Homo sapiens: one gene and its partner. Each later gene encodes a partner of the first gene's protein in a complex. Each region holds a gene or a part of one and is shown in the gene's direction. Other genes may lie near its edges.

Region 1 (7,971 bases):
AATATCTCAAATTATCATAAAAGAAATGGACAAATCTAGGAAACTCAGTGAATGCCAAATAGTCTAATTACAGAGAAAATCACACCTAGACACATTATGGTCAAACTGCAAATAACCAAGTATTGGGAAAGAAAAGTTTTGCAGGCAGTCCGAGAAACATAATACATTACACATGGACAAAAATAATAAAGTGATAGCTGACTTCTCATCAAAAAGAAGAAGTTAACATCATCAGAGGGCTTAAAGTGCTGATGGACAAAAACTGCCAATCCAGAATCCTATATCTAAAGAATCCTTCAAAACTGAAGGCAGAATAGACATTTTCAGATAAATAAAAACAGAAAATTCTACACCAATAGACCTCCACTGTAAGCAATGCTAAAAAAAATTCTTCAGGATGAAAGACGATGACATACCAGATGGAAACTGAAATCTGTAATGTTTTAGTTATTCTTTTGATGTAATATATTTAGTAATTTAAAATAATAATTATTTATTATTTCTACCTATTCTATAGCTTTGCTTACCTGGATGATTCTCCTGCTCTGGATATTATTGGCTGGGGTCACTCAGGTGGCTGCATTCAGCTGGATGCTTAGCCAGGGCTGGAACTTCCAAACTAGCTTCATTCACATGTCTGGTAGTTCAGCTGTGTGGCTGAAATGGTTGGGATGGTTGGCTGAAATGTTTTTCATTCTTTAGTAATCTACCCTAAACTTACTTATTTGTTGGCCAGCTTTCTAGAGGATAAAAGTAAAGGTGTATGGCTTCTTAGGGGCTAGGCCTAGAATTGGTATGACATCATTTTCACCATGTTTTGTTCATCAAAGTTAAAAGACCAGCCCAGATTCAAGGGGTGGGAACACAGACTTTATTTCTTATTTCTTTTTTTTTTTTTTGAGACAGAGTCTCGCTCTGTCACCCAGGCTGGAGTGCAATGGTGCAATCTTGGCTCCCTGCAACCTCCGCTTCTCAAGTTCAAGTGATTCTCCTGCCTCAGCCTCCTGAGTAGCTGGGATTACAGGTATGTGCCACCACGCCCAGCTAAATTTTTTTTTTTTTTTTTTTTTTGTATTTTCAGTAGAGACAGGGTTTCACCATGTTGTTCAGGTTGGTCTTGAACTCCTGACCTTGTGATCCACCTGCCTTGACCTCCCAAATTGCTGGGATTACAGACGTGAGCCACCATGCCCAGCTGATTCTATTTCTTAAAGGGAGAAGCAACATGCACATACAAGAATGTGAATACTTTTTGACAGCTATTCTTAAAGATAATTCACCACAAACAGGAAGGAATGAAAAGAACTGGAAATAGCAAAATGTAGGTAAATACACAAAAGGTAATATATACTTTTCTTCTCTTAATTTCTTTGCGATACATATGACTAAGGCAAAAATAACAATGTGCATAGATATGATATATATGACAACAAAGCACAAAGGACTTGGGGAGGTGGTAAGTAGAACTTTACTATTGCAAGGCTCTTTTATTTTACATGAAGTATCATAATTTTAACTCTAAGGCTGTGATAAGTTAAGAATGTATATCATAATTCTCAGAAACACTGTAAAGCAATAATGCAAAAAGATACAGTTAAAGCCAACAGAGGAATTAAGATGAAATATAAAAACATTAATTAACCCAAAAGAAAGCAGGAAGTAAAGAACAAAGGAACACAAAACTGAATGGGACAAATCGAAAACAAATAGCAAAATGATAGACAAACTCAACTATCTGTTGTCTATAAGAGAAGCACATTAAATTAAAAAACACAGGTTGAAAGTAAAAACATGGATAAAAATATACCAGTAAACAGTAAGCTAGGAAGGCTGCAGTGGCTATACTAATATCGGATGAATTAGACTTCAAGATAAGGAGTATTATCAGCAATAAAGACATTTCATAATGATAAAATGGTCAATTCATCAGGAAGACACACGAACCATAAATGTTTATATGCCCAATAACAGAGCTTCAAAAATGCAAAAGAAAAGCTGACAAAACTAAAGTAAGTGGCAAATTCACAGCCATAGTTTAAGTTTTACACTCCTGTATCAATAATTAATAGCAACACTACACATAAAACAATCAATACAATATAGAAGATCTGAAGACAACTATTAACCACCTTAATCACGTTGACATTGATGGACACAATGCTCAATAACTACAGAATACATATTCTTGTCTAGTGCTCACAGAACATTCACCAAGATAGACTATATTCTGGGCACAGTAAGTCTCAAAAAAATTTTAAAGTATCAAAATTTCAGAGTTTGTTTTCTAACCATGGCAGAAATAAACTGGTAATTTCCAATAAGACTAGTCATAAAAAAGATAGAAGATGCAAATGATCAATGTTTGTGTTTCATTTATCTATTCCTATGTAAGAAATCACTGCAAACTTCAGTGGCTTAAAATAACAACCATTTTATTGCTCACAGTGTTGTGAGTCAGGAATTTGTGTAGGACTCACTGAGAACAGCTCATGTCTGCTCCATGTGTTGTCAACTGGTCTCACTCATGTAGTTAGATTCAGCAAGTGCCTGATTTAGGATACACAGTCTGAGATGAATTTCTTCACGTGTCCGAAACCAAGATGCTGACTGTTGGTTCCATGTGGCCTCTCTTTCCATGTGGTCTTTCATACTGCAAGAGCTCTTTCTTCACGTGGCCACTGTCTCCAGCAGGATAGACTGGTCTTCTTTTTGTAGCTGCTCAGAGTACTGAAACATGAAAAGAAAAAAAAAAGAAAAAGGAAGAAAAACCTGTGTCTTTGAGGATACAGTCCCTGGGGTGGAATTCTAGCCCATGTATTTTGGTTTTCTCTATATTATTATCTGAGATGTTTTTATTTTTATGCTTTCATGCCACATTCCTTTTTTATTCTCGTTAGCTGTGATATAGGATAGTCTATTTATGATGAGGTCTCTTCAACTGTTTGGCTATGTGAAGTTTGTTCTTTAATAGATTGCACAGGAAGCGTTCATGGAAATAATATTCCTTAAATGACAGTTTGCAACTTTAAAAACAACATAATTCATCACCATATTAAGTTGCTCTGTAGCACAAAGTAATTGTAAGAACATGTTTTTCTTAGGACATGTTTTCTTATAGATTGAAATCTAGAAAAGTCTTTGCATGCTTTATGTTTTCATATTTGTCATGCCTTTTTTTTTTTTTTTTTTGAGACATGGTCTTGCTATGTTGCCCAGGATGGAATTGAACTTTTGAGCTCAGCGATCTTCCTGCCTCAGCCTCTGGAGTAGCTGGGACTACAGATGCCTGCCACGGCAACCTTCCCTCCTTCCTTCTTGTTTATGCTATTGGATGTGATCTAGTTGATTTTTTTTATCTCTTCTCTCCAACACATTTTCTGTCAGAATTGCAGCATGGGAAAGAAAAAGCATAGGTAGGGCACGTTTCCTACTGCTCCTTAGAGCTGTTTGAGAACTTCGAGGAAAATCTGAAAGCTCTTCCTCATTTTCGGGAGAACATAAACTTTTTTCCATGTAAAATCATTTCTGGGCTGGTTTTGGTGAATTTACACCTCAAGCCAATGGGAGAAAAGTAGCCAGACTAAGCCTCTAGACAAGAAAGTAATGATTATGTATGTTATTTTGTGTGTGGTCTCCTGGACTACGCATAATTTATGTTAGCCCTGCCTGTAGAGTTAGAGCACAAGCTTGAGTGAGGACTCAAGAACTAATGACAGAGAGAGCAGCAGAAGGAACTTTTCTTGCAAGTCCTTAACTACTGCATATTGTTTTATGCAGAAGACAACATAGAATCAACTATTTGTAGCATTTTAAGGAATCCATGTACAAAATTTTTTTTGACAGGGTCTCATTCTGTCGCCCAGGCTGGAGTGCAGTAGGGTGATCACAGCTCACTGCAGCCTCGACCTCCCTGGGCTCAGGTGATCCTCCCACCTCATCCTCCCGAGTAGCTGGGACTAGAGGCATGCATCATCACCCCAGCTTATTTTTTTTTATTTTTATTTTGTAGGGACGGGGTTTCATCATGTTGACTAGGCTGGTTTCGAACTCCTGAGCTCAAACTTTCCGCCTGCCTCGGCCTCCCAAAGGGCTGGGATTACAGGCATGAGCCACCGCGCCCGGCCTCAAACTCTTACCAGACCCTTTAATTTCCTCTCCGATACTCCGATTCTACTCAAACTGTTCACCTACACAGAGGAAACTCAGTGATTCCTGGGGGAGCCTATGCTATATTTGTGCATCCTCATTTGTGGACAAAATTCTTTCTTGCTGTGACTTGAAAGCAGCCTCCCTTTACCTTTCACTTATTAGTCCTAGTTCTGTTCTCTGCTGCTAAGAAAAAGGGTCTGATCCTTCTTTCACTGATCAGCCCTCCAAATATTGGAGAAGCACACTGCGTTTCCATGGGCCTGCAGTCCTTTTCCGGGATCATCTTCCCTAGAACCCCTCAACTGTCTCTCATTTCACACGGTTTAACCATCTTACCTTTAACCCATATTTCATTTGTTTGTCTCAATGTCCCTCATGAAAGTTGACCCAGACGGGTCCGCAGAACAACTTTTGCTGAGAAGGCAAAGGAAATTCTCGCCCAAATTGTGGAGAAGGCAGTCGAACCAATTAAACCTAAAGCTAAAACTGTAATAGAAAAGAACTTTCAAGCTCGCAATGAAAAGGCTATGCATGGATTTATCTCATCACAGCCACTAGCCACACCTCCACTCGTGCAGTGCGCCTGCGAGCCGAGCAGAAACCAATGGCCCATCGTAGTGAATTTCTCGGGTAAAGTGACATTCTCCGCTTTTGAATGCTCCCTTCGCCCAGCCGCCAACCCCTCGCCCCAATTTCCATTTTAAATGAAAGTCTCCCACTTTCTAGCTGAGACAGACAAAAATAAAACTCGGGCAAAACCAATCGCAGAGAGGCAGCTCACTGTCACTTCCTGGGTCACTTCCAGAAGTCACTTCCGGGGTCGAGGCGAGGCCAACGATACGCCTGCTGCAGCAGGAGGAGTTACGAGCCGGGCCGCGCGCTGCCTAAATACCTAAACCAGGTTTAGCGCCTGCTCATATAAAGCTCTCCTAACTCGTCTTCCGGTGGGAATTTCTTCACGTGGGCCGGAGTCGGAGACTGAGTTTAGCTTTACTGAGGAGCTCTAAATTTAGGCGGGTAAGTGCCGCAGATATCGCCCGTGGTTCCTGCGTTTAAATGGAACGGGAAGGGGTGTGTCAGGATTCATCCATGTTCTCCTGATATTTCCTCCTAATACCTGAAACCCTTGGGGTCTGAAAACGAAAGAAGGGGATAGAGAAGCTTTGGTTGCCGTGGCAACTGCGGGTCACCAATTTGGGTTTTTGAGGATTTGGAAAGGGAGGATTTGTGTAACTACTCCTGAAAACACGTGATGGGTCGGATTCAAATTCAGTTGTTACTTATAATTCATACTCCTAGCCACATGCTTTGAATTTAGAAGGTTTACTCTGGGTATAATGCAGAGATGCAAAATCTGAGCCAGGGTAATTGTTTAGAAAGCTGATGCGGTAATCTAGGCACTGTTTGAAGGGGTCTTGAACTAGAGTAGTGCTGTAGGATTGAAGAGGGGAAATAGGGGAAATTTGGAGGTAGTATCAGGGGCACTAATACTCGATTTCATATGGGTAATGAGGAAGGGGCCCTGAGCATCTTTAGGAGTAAGTCTAAACTCACCTTGGCTTATGATGATTTTTCTAGGTTCGTTTCTCACCTTCCGCACCCCTCCTCCACACGCACCTCGAATTCTAGTCATGCCAAGTAGTTTGGTGTTCTATTTCCTAGACTATCGTCCTCACCATTTTTTGTGATGTTAGGCAGGTTCCATCATTTCACTAAGCCCCTCAGTTTTTTCAACCTTCACATGGAAGAAAGTAATAGTACCCACCTCAGGATTGCTGTGGGGATTAAATTAGATAATTTATACTTCTAGTGCATAGTAAGGGCCTAATAAATATTAGCTGCTACTTCTATTCTTACTGTACTTTTCATATTGTTTTGTTATTATACGTTTTGCTGTTTCTTCGTCTAGACTTGAGATTTTTTAAATTAGAGGGGCAGTATCTTATTTATCTTTACATGGACTTGAAACATTAGTGGTTCGGTCTTTAATGGATCATTCATTTTGGCTGTTGCTGACATAGTTAAATTCATTTTTTACTTTAAAAGAGCTGACAGGTATAATGCATTTTGCTAATCAAATTATATTTATTAGATAAAAAGATAGCCGTTTTTCTGTACAACTCAGAAGACTGTGGATTAAGATGTACAGAAAGTAACTGATATCTCATCTTGTAATAGGTATGAGTGATTTCAGTGAAGAATTAAAAGGGCCTGTGACAGATGATGAAGAAGTGGAAACATCTGTGCTCAGTGGTGCAGGAATGCATTTTCCTTGGCTTCAAACATACGTAGAAACTGTGGGTAAGTAAAATAATAACATTGAGCCATTTTAACTTTAAGGAGGTGGTAAGATTCAATAGGGATACAAAATGAATAACCAGACTGGTTTAATTTTCAAGAGGAATATGTGGAGGGTTTTTTGGCTAAAAGCCAAAAGAAATCTTTTTTCTTTTAGAATTCTTTGCCCTTGGATTAATAATAGATAGTCTGTATTATGCTAGATACACATTTTTTCCAGTAATACTTACTGAGCACTTTTATCTCTGGCATTGATTAAATATTGGGGAGTCATAGGTGAAGATATGGTCTCTGCCATTGAGGAAAACATGCCTAGGAAGTGTTCAAGAAGTTGCTGTTGAATTGCATTGAAATTATTTCGAATAGAATTGATCGTGTAATAGATTTTTTTTTTTTTTGAGACAGAGTCTTGCTCTGTTGCCCACGCTGGAGTGCAGTGGCTAGATCTTGGCTCACTGCAACCTCTGTCTCCCAGGTTCAAGTGATTCTACTCAGCCTCCCGAGTAACTGAGATTACAGGTACCAGCCACCACGCCTGGCTAGTTTTTGTATTTTTAATAGAGACAGGGTTTCACCATGTTGGGCAGGCTGTTCTTGAACTCTTGACCTCAAGTGACCTGCCCACCTCAGCCTCCCAAAGTGGTGGGATTACAGGCATGAGCCACTGCACCCGGCCTAGATAAAAGAGCATTTTCCCCCATTTTTATCTAATGTAAATGCAAGCATGATTTTCTATGGGATAAAATTTCCCCCATTTTTATCTAATATAAATGCAAGTATGTTTTTCTATGGGATAAATTCCCTATAAGAATATATTTAATATAAGTATAAATAAAAGAAGCTATTATCTGTATGCTGGCATATTGAGTGGTATAGTCCTGGGATTACATTTGAACCAGCATTTTACTTACTGCCCTTAAATATGTGTTTTTTTGCCCAGCCTTTTCTCCCCTTGACAGAGATTCCTTGGCTCCTAAAATTTCGCTTCCATTTTTTTCTTTTGATCTAAGTATCATCCCATTTAATGATCTCAGTAAATTCTCAATAAATTTTTATGCTAGGCAGTTTAGGTAGGATGAAACTGAATCTCAAAGACATTAAACTCTTAAGTGGTATCAGGAGTCAAATCCAGGTTTGTCTGATCTCAAAGCTTACACTTTTAACGACTGAGATGCATTTTTAAAAATGAGACAATATATGTAAAGTACCTAGCATAGTATCTCATGCATAATGAGTGTTGAAAAATAATAGTGCCTTTCCTCTCCTCATTTTATTTTTGCTAGATTAATGCACATGGCTTAAGGCAGATTTGAATGAATGATACTTCAGAGGTAGTGCTACCGCATCCCTGGTAGGGAACAAACTAGTAATTTAAATTTCCTATAGTTAAGTCATACTTGGGTATGTTTCTGTTACCAGTGTTCTATAGAAAGTCTGAGTCAGTCTGCAAGCAGATAGGTTTAAGACCAAAGACCAAAATTTACATGCTTAGGAATATTTTATATGTCATGGATAGCCTGTTAA
Region 2 (6,726 bases), on another chromosome or scaffold:
CACTGGTGGCATGAGGGGCTTCCTTCTTTGAGAGCCAGCACAGGTGGAGGTCGGAAACAGGAGCTCTGGGGTCAGGCTGCCTGGGTTCACATCCCAGCTCTTCTCTTTACCGGCTCTGTCTTCTGGGGCAAATGGCAGTGTGCCTCAGTTTCTTCAGCAGTAAAATGACAATGCCAGTCATCCCAGCTTCGCAGGATTGTTGTGAGGATTGGATGAGTTGATAAGAGATGAATGCCTGTGCACAGCCTGGCCCAGGGAGGGCATTCATCATGATACTGTCCTTGCGATTGTCCTCCCTTCAGAATGGGGCACTGCATGTGACCAAGGACCTGCTGTGGGAGCCGGCAACCCCTGGGCCTCTCCCCATGCTGCCTCCCCTCATCGGTAAGGGTCTCATTCCCCCGGGCTCACTCCACACTGCTCCACCTATTCTTCCCACTGCTCCCGCTCCTGAGACCTTCCTCTCCCTGCTAAGCCTGTGCCTGCTCAGGACCCTTGGATACCTCCAGTCGCCCAGGGCATCTGGCCGCACTCCTGTGCCCTCCCCAGCCCTTTCCGTAACCTCCTTCTCAGATCCCTGGGACCCTGGCCTGACTGCCCGGGACCTGCTTTTCCGCGGAGGGTGCCGGTATCGGAAGCGGCCCCGAGTCGTGCTGGATGTGACTGAGCAGGTGAGTGGGCCCACGGGGGACAGTGCTGCGTAGCCTGGAGACTGTGCTTAGTGACCTGGCCTCCTCTTCTCCCCAGATCAGCCGGTTCCTCTTGGATCATGGAGACGTAGCCTTTGCGCCCCTGGGGAAGCTGATGCTGGAGAATTTCAAGCTGGAGGGAGCGGGGGTGAGTGGCCCGTGACTCCAGGGGTGGGGACTCCCTGCTGTCCTTCAGGGGTGAACTCGAGGGTGTGTGAGCCTGACAAGGCCTTTCCATGCAGAGCCGCACTAAGAAGAAGACAGTGGTCAGTGTGAAGAAGCTGCTCCAGGACCTCGGTGGACACCAGCCCTGGGGGCAAGTGGCTGATGAGAAAGGAGGAGATGGATAGGCATAGCTGGTGGTGGGGATGTAGGAGGTGCTAGGACGCACGTACAGCTTTCCGTCATACCCACTTCCCCCCTGCTCCATGCAGTCTGAGCTGTACTTTCTTATACCAGACTTCCAACTCCAAATCATCTCAGGGGAAAGCAGATTTACATTTGTGGAGTTCAGGCACAGCTGCATCCAGGTGTTCAAATAATGTTCATAGAGCTGTGTCTCTCTTTCCTGTCTCGTCCACTTGCCTCTCCCTGCACAGTTCCCTAGACAGGCTGTCTCTAGGTAGCAGCAAGATGGCTTATGATCTAAGGAAAGAGCCAGTGTCCTTCCTGCGGCACCAGAAGTCCCAGAAAGGACTTTGGTTGGCTTGGCTTGGGTCTCACACCCATCTGTGAACCAGTCACTGTGGCAAGGGCAATGGAATATTGTTGGTGGCCAGGTCTGGGTCACATGATTGCTTCCGGGGCATGGGAACAGGATGGGGTGGTCTCCCAAAGGAAGAAATTCTAGGTAAATAAGAAATGTGTCCACTGCACTTGGCCTCCTTGGGATGGGACCTGTCCTCCCCTGAGTGCCACCGAGTGATCCTCCTGCTGTTCTCTGGTCCCCAGGTGTCCCTGGGCTTACCTCAGCAACCGACAGCGCCGCTTCTCTATCCTCGGGGGCCCCATCCTGGGCACGTCGGTGGCGAGCCACTTGGCAGAGCTGCTGCACGAGGAGCTGGTGCTGCGGTGGGAGCAGCTGCTTCTGGATGAGGCCTGCACTGGGGGCGCGCTGGCCTGGGTTCCTGGAAGGACACCCCAGTTCGGGCAGCTGGTCTACCCTGCTGGAGGCGCCCAGGACAGGCTGCGTATCCTTTCTTGCGAGACAGGAGATTCCAGCGGGCTCGCCTCTGGTAGAGGAGGTGCTCTTGGCATGGTCCAGAGAAGGGCAGGAATTTGGGGGGCTTGCAGTGATCATAGCTCGTGCACTGATCCTTAGTGAGAGGCCCAGATTTCCAAGAGGTCGTTCTGACCCCAGGTGACAATCCCCAATTCCTTGGGAAACCTGGACGCATCCAGCTCCAGGGACCTGTCCGGCAAGTGGTGACATGCACCGTCCAGGGAGAAAGTAAGGCCCTTATATACACTTTCCTCCCTCACTGGCTGACCTGCTACCTGACCCCTGGCCCTTTCCATCCCTCCTCAGCTCTGCTGGCCGTCCGCTCTGACTACCACTGTGCCGTGTGGAAGTTTGGTAAACAGTGGCAGCCAACCCTTCTGCAGGCAATGCAGGTGGAGAAAGGGGCCACGGGGATCAGCCTCAGGTGAGGGGGGTCAGGTTGGTCGGTGAGGAGGGGCTGGAGGCAGGGCTGAGCAGCCCGATGTGAATGCATTCCTGCCCTGTAGCCCTCACCTGCCCGGGGAGCTGGCCATCTGCAGCCGCTCGGGAGCCGTCTGCCTGTGGAGCCCTGAGGATGGGTATCGCCGCTTCCTGTGAAACCCCCCACCCTAACGAACTGAACTCCGCCCTGTTGAGCATGTCGCGACCCTTGAGCCCCTTCCCCATCAGCCTGTCCCCCTGCCCACGGCTTGCCTGTCTCCCCAAGGCTGCGGCAAATCTACAGGGACCCTGAGACCCTCGTGTTCCGGGACTCCTCTTCGTGGCGTTGGGCAGACTTCACTGCGCACCCTCGGGTGCTGACCGTGGGTGACCGCACCGGAGTGAAGATGCTGGACACTCAGGTACGGGCTGGCGGCAGAGGACCCACCCCGACTGCGGGAGCGGCCGCAGAGCGGTGAGTCCCAGGCTGGCTGCGGCCTGGGCGAGGACAGCGTCACCGGCCTGGGACTGTGGGGAGGGCTGACCCTGTGTTTATCTTCCAGGGCCCGCCGGGCTGTGGTCTGTTGCTTTTTCGTTTGGGGGCAGAGGCTTCGTGCCAGAAAGGGGAACGTGTCCTGCTTACCCAGTACCTGGGGCACTCCAGCCCCAAATGCCTCCCCCCTACTCTTCATCTCGTCTGTACCCAGGTGAGTGGCACACAACACCGCCCCGCCCCACCTCTGCTCTGTCTCAGATGGTCACTAGAGGCTGCTGCTTACCAGCGGCTCTGCTGGGCCCAGACAACCACCCAGCAAACCAAACTCAACCCTGGATGAATCTGTGGCCCAAACACGCAGTGGATCCCACAGTCGGTGCTAACAGGCAGGTGGGGAAGCTCTCCCAGGGCCTCCCCTTAGTAGAGCTTCGAGGTGCAGCCAGGGGTGGAGCAGGGGAGGAGGGGCCTCGGGGTGGGGCTTCCGTGCAGAGCTGGAGAGTTTCTGCTGTGCAGGAGGCGGGGGCTCTGAGGAAGCAGGTCTGTCCTCCACCCGCCCTCCCGGGGACATTCGTAGGCGTGCCTCGAGCACAGGCTCCCGGGTCAGGAGAGTGGGGGTGGCTGCGAGAAGGCCAGGCAGGTTTCTGCTGGCAAGGCTCCCCCACACCTCTTCTGAGCACCCCTTTCCCACTTGTTCTGTCTGTCCACCGGACTGTCGGTCAGAATTGGTGAAGGAAGCGGCACCTGTTCAGGGCTGGCAGGTGAAGTCTGAGAGGCACGTGGAGGCTGATGGGAGATGCTGCTGCCCCTCAGGGCTCTGCACTCACCTGGAGAGCCACATGGGGCCTGGAGGGCCACTACACAGCTCAGCTCCCAAGTTCGGCCACATCCCCCTTCCTTCTCGGGCCCCAGTTCTCTCTCTACCTAGTGGACGAGCGCCTTCCCCTGGTGCCGATGCTGAAGTGGAACCATGGCCTCCCCTCCCCGCTCCTGCTGGCCCGACTGCTGCCTCCGCCCCGGCCCAGCTGCGTGCAGCCCCTGCTCCTCGGAGGCCAGGGTGGGCAGCTGCAGCTGCTGCACCTGGCAGGTGAGGGTCCAGGCCAGGGTGGGCGGCGTGTGGGAGATGGGGCGGTCGGGGCCTGGACAGGGCCTCAGCTGTCTGTCCTTCCTCAGGAGAAGGGGCGTCGGTGCCCCGCCTGGCAGGCCCCCCCCAGTCTCTTCCTTCCAGGATCGACTCCCTCCCTGCATTTCCTCTGCTGGAGCCTAAGATCCAGTGGCGGCTGCAGGAGCGCCTGAAAGCACCGACCATAGGTGTGCTGGGTGGGGGAGTGAGCTTGGGGGGCGCAGTGGAAAACATCCCCTCCCCCCGCTAGGCCCTGGAGGTCATTGTCATTCCCGTCACCAGGTCTGGCTGCCGTCGTCCCGCCCTTGCCCTCAGCGCCCACACCAGGCCTGGTGCTCTTCCAGCTCTCGGCGGCGGGAGATGTCTTCTACCAGCAGCTCCGCCCCCAGGTGGACTCCAGCCTCCGCAGAGATGCTGGGCCTCCTGGCGACACCCAACCTGACTGCCATGCCCCCACAGCTTCCTGGACCTCCCAGGACACTGCCGGCTGCAGCCAGTGGCTGAAGGCCCTGCTAAAAGTGCCCCTGGCTCCTCCTGTGTGGACAGCACCCACCTTCACCCACCGCCAGATGCTGGGCAGCACAGAGCTGCGGAGGGAGGAAGAGGAAGGGCAGCGGCTGGGTGTGCTCCGCAAGGCCATGGCCCGAGGGCAGCTCCTGCTGCAGAGAGACCTGGGCTCCCTCCCTGCGGCAGAGCCACCCCCTGCACCCGAGTCAGGCCTAGAGGACAAGCTCAGTGAGCGCCTGGGGGAAGCCTGGGCAGGCCGAGGGGCTGCCTGGTGGGAGAGGCAGCAGGGCAGGACCTCGGAGCCCGGGAGACAGACCAGGCGGCCCAAGCGCCGGACCCAGCTGTCCAGCAGCTTTTCGCTCAGTGGCCATGTGGATCCCTCAGAGGACACCAGCTCCCCTCATAGCCCTGAGTGGCCACCTGCTGATGCTCTGCCCCTGCCCCCCACGACCCCGCCCTCCCAGGAGTTGACTCCGGATGCATGCGCCCAGGGCGTCCCATCAGAGCAGCGGCAGATGCTCCGTGACTACATGGCCAAGCTACCACCCCAGAGGGACACCCCAGGCTGTGCCACCACACCTCCCCACTCCCAGGCCTCCAGCGTCCGGGCCACTCGCTCCCAGCAGCACACACCCGTCCTCTCTAGCTCTCAGCCCCTCCGGAAGAAGCCTCGAATGGGCTTCTGAGGACACAAGGTGGGCTGCCCTCAAGCCCCAGAGAGCCCCTCATCCTTCCTCTGGGACCAGATGTGCCTTCCACAGTTGAAACTTGAGAAGCAGAGCTCGCCACCTTCTGGAGGCCACTGTGATGATGAGCCAAGCAATTTGGAGCCAAGTTGAAGGGACAGGGCAACAAAATACAGTAGTAGTTTCTTTTGTATTTTGTATATTCGCCTGAAGATCATCCCGCAAGGCAGGCTGGAGGTGCCGGTGGGCCTGTGTTGCTGGGATTTTAGTCTGTGCTGGGAGGCAGGGCTCCGCTGCGCCTCAGCTGTGGGGGCCTCAGGCAGGTCCCTCAGTTCTCACGCCTTCCTGTCCAGTGGAATGGGGGCCAGGAGTGCTGGCTCCTCGTGTTTGGTGAGGGTGGAGTGAGGCCCCTGCAGAGCTGCTGATGAGGTGGGCACAGCGGCCGTTGGCAGCTGCTGTTGTGGGTTGCTTTGTCAATCTCTGCCCCGGTCTGATGTTTCCTACAGGGAGATGCCTTGGATCCAGGTTCAGGGACTAAATACACTTGGCAGCTGAAGATGAATTGGAATGGTCACGTTTTTTAGGCTGGACAGCGTCCCGCCACAGCTACTACCTGACACTGAGCTCATGCAGAGAGATGATGGCTGATGTTCCTTCTCCCTTGGGACATGGGTCTGGCACCTGTGGGCTGTCGATAGTGCCCTCTGAGCAGAGGGTCACGGTCATGTCAGTTTGGGGGAATTCTCTGTTGTGCCTCACAGACTCCCCCCTTTCTTTCCTCCCTCCCCTTCTCATTTTGATGTCTAAAGCATCAAGTCCCTCTTCCTCGGAGTTTCTCTAGCTGCAGTGGAAGATTCTGTTTTCCTGTGGGGAAAATGCTCACTTGAGATTTTGCAGGGACCCGGGTCTGTCTGGTTTCTGATGACATAGTAAGAGAAAGGTCTTTTTTCAGGTTGGCTGGTGAAAGGAATTGCATGTGACTCACACAAACAGGAGCTAGCCCAATCATACACTGACTCGCGTGGGTGTTAAAATGTTTATCATGCCTAAGGGAGACATTTATGATTAAACCATTTATGCTACATATAACTGGGGAAAACTATGATGCTTTCGGTGCTGGGAATGCAGTGAGGTCCCACGTGGGCAGAGCTTGGCTGGGCTGGGCAACTCCGACACACGTCTCTGGGGGTGTGGCGGCGCTCTCAGTCGGCACTGTGGAAGGAAGGGTGACCTGTGCTTTCTCCCTGTCACTGTGACTGCAAGGACAGGGGGGCAGCCTTGGGGTTCAGTCCAGGCCAAATTCAGTGTCCTCAACTGGGCGTGGTGGCTCATACCTGTAATCCCAGCACTTTGGGAGGCCGAGGCAAACAGATCACCTGAGGTCAGGAGTTCGAGACCAGCCTGGTCAACATGGTGAAACCCCATCTCTACTAAAAATACAAAGATTAGCTGGGCGTGGTGGCAGGCCCCTATAATACCAGCTACTGGGGAGGCTGAGGCAGGAAAATCCCTTGACGGGTGCCTGTAATCCCAGCTACTTCAGAGGCGGAGGCAGGAGAATTGCTTGAACCTAGGAGGCAGAGGTT

What was found.
Region 2: TAF1A (region 1) and TAF1C share a complex: the UniProt entries of both Homo sapiens proteins name them as parts of the transcription factor SL1/TIF-IB complex.

What each region holds. Positions count from the first base shown.
Region 1 is NC_000001.11:222,586,922-222,594,892, reverse strand, and holds the start of TAF1A (TATA box-binding protein-associated factor RNA polymerase I subunit A), read left to right. Parts: upstream 1-4,959; 5' UTR 4,960-5,166; intron 5,167-6,327; 5' UTR 6,328-6,329; coding exon 6,330-6,450; intron 6,451-7,971. UniProt on the Homo sapiens protein: Component of the transcription factor SL1/TIF-IB complex, which is involved in the assembly of the PIC (pre-initiation complex) during RNA polymerase I-dependent transcription.
Region 2 is NC_000016.10:84,177,355-84,184,080, reverse strand, and holds the end of TAF1C (TATA box-binding protein-associated factor RNA polymerase I subunit C), read left to right. Parts: intron 1-302; coding exon 303-384; intron 385-573; coding exon 574-671; intron 672-747; coding exon 748-837; intron 838-931; coding exon 932-1,005; intron 1,006-1,640; coding exon 1,641-1,879; intron 1,880-2,022; coding exon 2,023-2,139; coding exon of another isoform or gene 2,140-2,217; coding exon 2,218-2,335; intron 2,336-2,417; coding exon 2,418-2,489; exon of another isoform or gene 2,490-2,617; coding exon 2,618-2,753; intron 2,754-2,894; coding exon 2,895-3,038; intron 3,039-3,085; exon of another isoform or gene 3,086-3,213; intron 3,214-3,736; coding exon 3,737-3,911; intron 3,912-3,997; coding exon 3,998-4,135; intron 4,136-4,229; coding exon 4,230-5,140; 3' UTR 5,141-6,226; downstream 6,227-6,726. Other genes in the region: DNAAF1 (dynein axonemal assembly factor 1), read right to left, coding at 6,240-6,352, 6,475-6,567. UniProt on the Homo sapiens protein: Component of the transcription factor SL1/TIF-IB complex, which is involved in the assembly of the PIC (pre-initiation complex) during RNA polymerase I-dependent transcription.